2 linked regions of the Homo sapiens genome follow. The protein of the gene in region 1 purifies or fractionates together with the protein of each later gene. This does not show direct contact. Each region holds a gene or a part of one and is shown on either strand. Other genes may lie near its edges.

Region 1 (3,813 bases):
GGGAAACTGCCCTGGCTGCCCCCACCCCCTGTGCGGGTACCCACGCTCTTCATGGCAAACTCCTGGGCATGGGCCACCCCACTGCCCACGCTGCCCATGGCCAGGCGGGGGTCCGGGGGTCCAAGCTCGGAGGGCCGTGGGGCAAAGGCCAGGAGAGGATCCCGCCCTGGGTCAGCGCGCACAGGCAGCGTCTCCAGCTTCGCCATGACTAAGCCAGGGGGGCACTGTGGGCACAGGTGGGAAGGCAGAGATAGGTAAGACCCTACTCCTATTCCCACCACCCCAGCCAAGTCAACCCGGCACCGCTCTGCCCCTCAGTGTCCCCTTCCCTACAATGGGTACAAAAAGTTCCCAGGCATCCAAGGTGAAGGAATAAGGCTGGGATAAAAGAGAGAACTTGGGAATGGGGGCTGCCTGTTGCCCACCTGATAAAGCCCAACCCCCAGGGCTCCATGCACATAGCCCCCAGCGTTGCTCAGCTCAGCTCAGCTCAGCTCAGCTCAGCGTTCCATTCCTAAACTTCTGCCTTAGCCCCACCTCCGCCATGAGCTTCCCAGGCTCAGTGACCCTCTCAACTCTTTGCTGCAACCCCAGAATTTTGGGGTTCTTTATCTTGGGTCTGGGACCCTAATATCCCAACCTCATGGGCTGGGGAAATGGGGTTGGAAGGGGAGAGCAGTACCTGAATCCAACAGGGAACCAACCTCAGAAATTAGGGGAGGGAGAGAAATACACCCCTATCCAAAAATTGAGGGTGGGGGTCCTTCCCAGCCCCCTAACCTAAGTGTTGCAGTCAGGGCAGAAGTGGAAGCTCACTACCAGCGCAGGCTTCTCTCCTTGCCTTTCCAAGGGGTTGAGGGGCCGACGGGTCCTCAAGCCTGGGACCCTCCGAGGCCCGGTCTGCAGGGGCCATGTGCCTCACTCTCGCAGTCGGGGCTCGGCCCGAACCAGCTGCGCGACTTTGGAGGGGCCGACTGAGCCATCCCGGACTGCAGTTTTCTCCTCTGCGAAATGGGAGGAATGAAGGACCTACCTTGCGGGGCTGCCGCGTGCCAGGCGCCCCGAGGCGGCGAGCGCCTGAGGAAACGGGGGTCTGGGGGAGGGTGGGTAGGCGACGCACATCTGGGTCGCGGGTGGGCGCCGCCAAGGGCACAGCCTGTCCCTCCCGGATGGACGGGGGCCGCGGCTGCAGTAGGTGGCAGGCCTGCCCTCCCCAAGGTCTTCCCAGCTCGGCCGCACCGGGGCCCTGGGAAGACAGGGCCCCCTTCCCGGGATCAGTCCTCCGCAGAGGTCCCAGGGCTGGCTGAGGCCGGGGCAGGGGACGCAGTGGCGCCAGCTGCTGGCACTGACGGAGCCTCTCTCAGGGCCTGCGTTTCCCACAGGTGGGAGGGGGGAGGGGAGGGGAGGGGCCGCTGCAGGGTGCGCGGCCCCAAGGATCCTGCGCCTGCCGAACCCCGCAAAGAATTCACTGCCACCAGGAAGACTTCCCGGATTACTACCCTCTCCCGCTCCCTGTGGACCTTGACCCTGCTCAGCTTACCGTGAAGCCCTCTGAGTCCTTCTGTGGGTGCGCGTCCCCCTCCCCCAAGGCCGGCCCACAAGCGCAGGGGGAGCCAGGCCTCGGGTTACCTGTGCTCAGGGAGGCCGTGCTTCCTCGTTCCTTTGTCTCAAGTTCGCACCTGGGAACACCTGCCCCAGAGATCTGCATAATGCAGCCGGGCAGGAGCACCAGGCAGTGTCTGCCTCGGGTTAGACCCTCAAATAAGTGTGTGGGAAATGGGAGAGGGCGCCCTTCAGGCCTTTTCCCACTACACCCTGCATAAACCAGGCAGGGAGCCCTCCTTCCCTATCAAGTTAAGGGGCCCACGTGGCACCCTATGGCCCCACAGACCGTCTTCTACCCAGATGCCCAGTTCTAATGCTGAGTCCCTGGCCCAGACCAAGGGCACCTGACAAAACTGTTGTCCTTCGGGAGTCTTCTGGCCCCCACACCAGGAATGAGAGCTCTAGGTTGTTGGAAAGTTCACTACCAAGCCTGTCCACTGTCTCTGTAGAATTCCATTCTCAGCATCTGTCCCCACAGGTGTGGAGAAGAGCACTTCGCCACCCTCCTCCCTTGGACCCGTCTGTCCCCATAAGCAAGGGCCAGGACTAGGATGAGGACAGAGAGCCACGTAGGGCACAAATGAAGGGCACAAACAGCAAGTACACAGCCCTGAGGGTGACAGCCTCCTTCCCTTTGTGCCTTGGGTCCCTCTCTGGCCTCACTCTAGTCCCTGCTCTGCCTCTACTCCCCAGCATACTCCAGCCCCCTATGCCTCAGCCCTGCAACCCCCTCCTACCTTAAGTATGGACCCTTCTCTTGCCACCTCTGGGTGCAATGTGGGGAGCAGCTGGGGACTGGGAGGATGAAGCCTGAAAGGCCTGAGGCTTGGAACCAGTAGGAAGGCCTGGGCAGGGTTTGGGAAAGAACTGGCAAAATTTCATACAGATGAGGTCAGGTGGTGGGGACAAGGGATAATGCTGGACTGGGCACCAGCGTGCGTGTGACACTGTTAACATGATAGGGGGAGACTGCTTGGGGAAAATAGTTGCTTTGGGAAACACCAGAGGAAGATACCTCTCAAGCACTAAATGGAGGCCAAGCAAGGTGGCTCATGCCTGTAATCCCAGCACTTTGGGAGGTCAAGGTGGGCAGATTACTTGAGGCCAAGAGTTCAAGACCATCCTGGCCAAATTGGTGGAACCCCATCTCTACTAAAAATACAAAAATTAGCTGGGTGCGGTATGCATTCCTGTAATCCCAGCTACTTGGGAGGCTGAGGCACGAGAACCCCCTTGAACCCAGGAGGCAGAGGTTGCAGTGAGCTGTAATTGCACCACTGCACTCCAGCCTGGGTGACAGAGCGAGACTCTTTCCTTAAAAAAAAAAAAAAAAAAAAAAAAAGCACTAGATGGAGAGAGATTGAGATCATCAGTTTTCAAGGGTGCTGGGGGTGTAGGCCAGCACTGAGCCAGGGAGCAAAGCCCCAGAAGTCTGGAAGGCACTCTGGGAGCAGGAAGAAGGCCAGGAGAAGGTGGGCCCTGAAGGCCAAGATTGGGGGGATTCAAGAATGTGGGGACAGTTTCCAGTGTTAAAAATAACAGGGCCAGGTAACACTGGGGTTGGAGAGTGTGCTGCGGATTTAGGAGCTGGTCTCGAGACATCACCAATGTCTATGTCAGAATGGTTTCAGAAAAGTGGTACAAGTGCCGGATGCGGTGGCTCACACCTGTAATGCCAGCACTTTGGGAGGCCAAGGCAGGCAAATCACTTGAGGTCAGGAGTTCGAGACCAGCCTGGCCAACGTGGTGAAACCCCGTCTCTACTAAAAATACAAAAAATTAGCTGGGCGTGGTGGTGCGCGCCTGTAATCCCCTACTCAGGAGGCTGAGGTGGGAGAATCACTGGAACCCGGGAGGCAGAAGTTGCAGTAAGCCGAGATCATGCCACTGCACTCCAGCCTGGAAGACAGAGCGAGACTACATCAAAAAAAAAAAAAAAAAAAACAGGTTGGCGCGGTGGCTTACGCTTGTAATCCTAGCACTTAGGGAGGTCCAAGACAGGTGGATCCCCTAAGATCAGGAGTTCGAGACCAGCCTGACCAACAGGGCGAAACCCTGCCTCTACTAAAAATACAAAAAAATTAGCTGGGTGTGGTGGTGCATGCCTGTAATCCCAGCTACTCAGGAGGCTGAGGCGGGAGAATGGCTTGAACCCAGGAGGTGGAGGTTGCAGTGAGCCAAGATCGCACCACTGCACTCCAGCATAGG
Region 2 (2,644 bases), on another chromosome or scaffold:
GTTGTGCGTGGTGCAGAAACCTGCTGTGTGACCTCCTGGAGCCGAGGCGTCTGGAGACTGGCTCCTCTCTCCGTCCCCATCAGCTTCGAAGGGCTGGTCCCAGGAAGAGGCTAGATGGGGACAGCGGGGCAGGCCCGGGAGCGGTGTAAGCACAGCCCAGCTCACCGGGACCACAGCTGGGCAGCTTGGAGGGAGGCCTGAGACCACTTCGCCCTCTGGGGCATGAGGGCTGTGCGCGCTGACCCTGACTCACAGCCCTAGTGAGGCCATCGGAGTTTCCGTGTCCATGGGGAGGGCCCTGGATGGGTCATCTTGGTCACACCGGCAGCTGGGAGCTGAGTGGAGGGAGAGAGGCAGCAGGGCCACGGCCTGAGGGGAAGGAGCGAAGGCGGGCGGCGGCCTCCCACCTCAGAGCTCCTTCTTCTCCCTGCAGAAGATCTCCGCAAACTTGCGCAGCTGCTCGCTGGCGGCCTGCGACTCCTCCTGCAGCCGCTGGTTGTTCTGCCGCAGGCTGGCCACCTCTGACTGGAGCACCACCTTGTCCTGCTTCTCCTGCACAGGGTGGGAAGCTGGCATCAGGCGGGTGGGCTTGGCCGCTCCTGGAACAGCCGATGGCTCCCTGAGGCCTGTGAGCCCTGGCCCGGCTGTGCTTTGGAGCCAACCACTAGAGCCAGGCCAGGCCGGGGCACACATCCCACTCTGCCTCTCCACAACCGAGGGACCCTGGGCAAGTCACTTGGTTCCCGCAACTCTACCAGGAGGCTGAGGGGTGTCTGGAGCTCATCTATGTAGAGCTCCCGGAACGCAACCACATGTGGAGTCATCGCTTGACAAACATCACTATTGTCACCGCATCCCACCTTCACACTACCCGAGGACTTGGGGACTGTCGCTGTCCCTAGTTTCCTGGAAGAGGACCCCAGCCTCACACAGCAAGTGGGGAGCTGGGACATGGATGCAGGGTGGCCTGAGCAGACCCCCTTCTTCCAGGAGGACGTAGCCCCCGAAAGGCAGGGACCTGTTTCAGGTTGCGCAGCATTATGCAGTGGGGCGGGGGTCAGAACCTGGGCCCCTTTGATTCCACGGCTCGAAGACTTACGCATTATATACTCTGCCACCTTTCTGGCTTTTACCCAGAAGTATAGAAACAATAGATAAAAGTCTCCTCCTCATTTTTTTTTTTTTTTTTTTGAGACTGGGTTTTGCTCTTGTCGCCCAAGCTGGAGTGCAGAGGCATGATCTCGGCTCACTGCAATCTCCGCCTCCTGGGTTCAAGCAATTCTCCTCCCCAGCTTCCCAAGTAGCTGGGATTACAGGCGTGCACCACCACACCCGGCTAATTTTGTATTTTAGTAGAGACGGGGTTTCACCATATTGGCCAGGCTGGTCTTGAACTCCTGACCTCACCCACCTCGGCCTCCCAAAGTGCTGGGATTACAGGTGTGAGCCAACGTACCCAGCCAGTCTCCTCCTCATCCTTCCGCCCCATGGAGACAAGTCCAAAGAACAAATTGACTGTCACCTTCTAGATGGCCCTCTCAACCATGGTGGTTAAACAATAAATAAATAAGTATGGTGATATTCTAGACAACACTGCTGCAGCTCGCTTTGGTTTTTATGTAAGTTACTGGACTTCTTTTGCGTGTTAGTAAATATATAGATTTGTTATTACTTTAATTGGCTGCAAGCTGTTCCGCTGCATGGACACCCTATAATTTACACAGCCATTCTCATGTTGAGTGACAGCCACGCTGGCTCCAATTTTTTATTGCCAATAGTGTGGCAACGAACGTCCTTGTTCACAATCTCTTTGTACCCATGCTGTCACGGATAAATTCCCACAAGTGGAATTACTGGATCAACATTTTTTTTTCTTTTTTTTTGAGATGGAGTCTCGCTCTGTTGCCCAGGCTGGAGCCCAGTGGCATGATCTCGGCTCACTGCAACCTCCACCTTCCTGGGTTCAAGCGATTCTCTTGCCTCAGCATCCTGAGTACCTGGGATTACAGGCACCCGCCACCACACCCGACTAATTATTGTACTTTTTAATAGAGATGGGGTTTCACCATGTTGACCAGGCTGGTCTCGAACTCCTGACCTCAGGTGACCCACCACCTTGGCCTCCCAAAGTGCTGGGATTACAGGTATGAGCCACCGCGCCCAGCCACAGTTTTTTTGTGTTTTTTTGATAAATGTTATCCAATTGCCTTCCGAAAAGCCTGGGCTGATTATTCTCCCCCCAAGAATGGATGAGTTTCTCTGAGCGCTTGGTAGCCTGGGGTGTTATCACTGTTTACTCTTCACCCATGACTACACTCAAACACAGGAGGTGTGGGGGTGGGGTGGGTCCTGCATGGCGGGGGCAGGTGCCTGATCCCTGCTGACTGCCCTGCCCAGTGTCTGGGAAGTGGGATGGAGAGGGCGTGGCCCCCGGCCTTACCTTCTGCAGGTCAGTGTGCAGCTGTTTCAGCATCACCTCCAGCTGGTACACCTTGCCTGTCAGATCCAGGGGTGGCTCCTCGCTGGAAAAACCAGGGACAAGGTCAGCCTGAGGCCCTAAAGCCCCTGGGGAAGGCTTCTGGCCCACATCTGAGGAGCCTGGGGGTACAGGCCCCCTTATCCCTGACATTCTAGCAAAGCCTGA

The links.
Region 2: the proteins of LZTS3 (region 1) and SIPA1L3 purify together in Homo sapiens (affinity purification with mass spectrometry; one large-scale study listed by BioGRID and IntAct). This does not show direct contact.

The regions. Positions count from the first base shown.
Region 1 is NC_000020.11:3,166,958-3,170,770, forward strand, and holds part of LZTS3 (leucine zipper putative tumor suppressor 3), read right to left. Parts: exon of another isoform or gene 1,541-3,813; intron 1,348-1,540; exon of another isoform or gene 1,034-1,347; intron 1,005-1,033; 5' UTR 914-1,004; coding exon of another isoform or gene 842-913; 5' UTR 781-841; intron 225-780; coding exon of another isoform or gene 207-224; coding exon 1-206. UniProt on the Homo sapiens protein: May be involved in promoting the maturation of dendritic spines, probably via regulating SIPA1L1 levels at the postsynaptic density of synapses.
Region 2 is NC_000019.10:38,204,005-38,206,648, reverse strand, and holds part of SIPA1L3 (signal-induced proliferation-associated 1-like protein 3), read right to left. Parts: intron 2,523-2,644; coding exon 2,441-2,522; intron 553-2,440; coding exon 409-552; 3' UTR 1-408. UniProt on the Homo sapiens protein: Plays a critical role in epithelial cell morphogenesis, polarity, adhesion and cytoskeletal organization in the lens.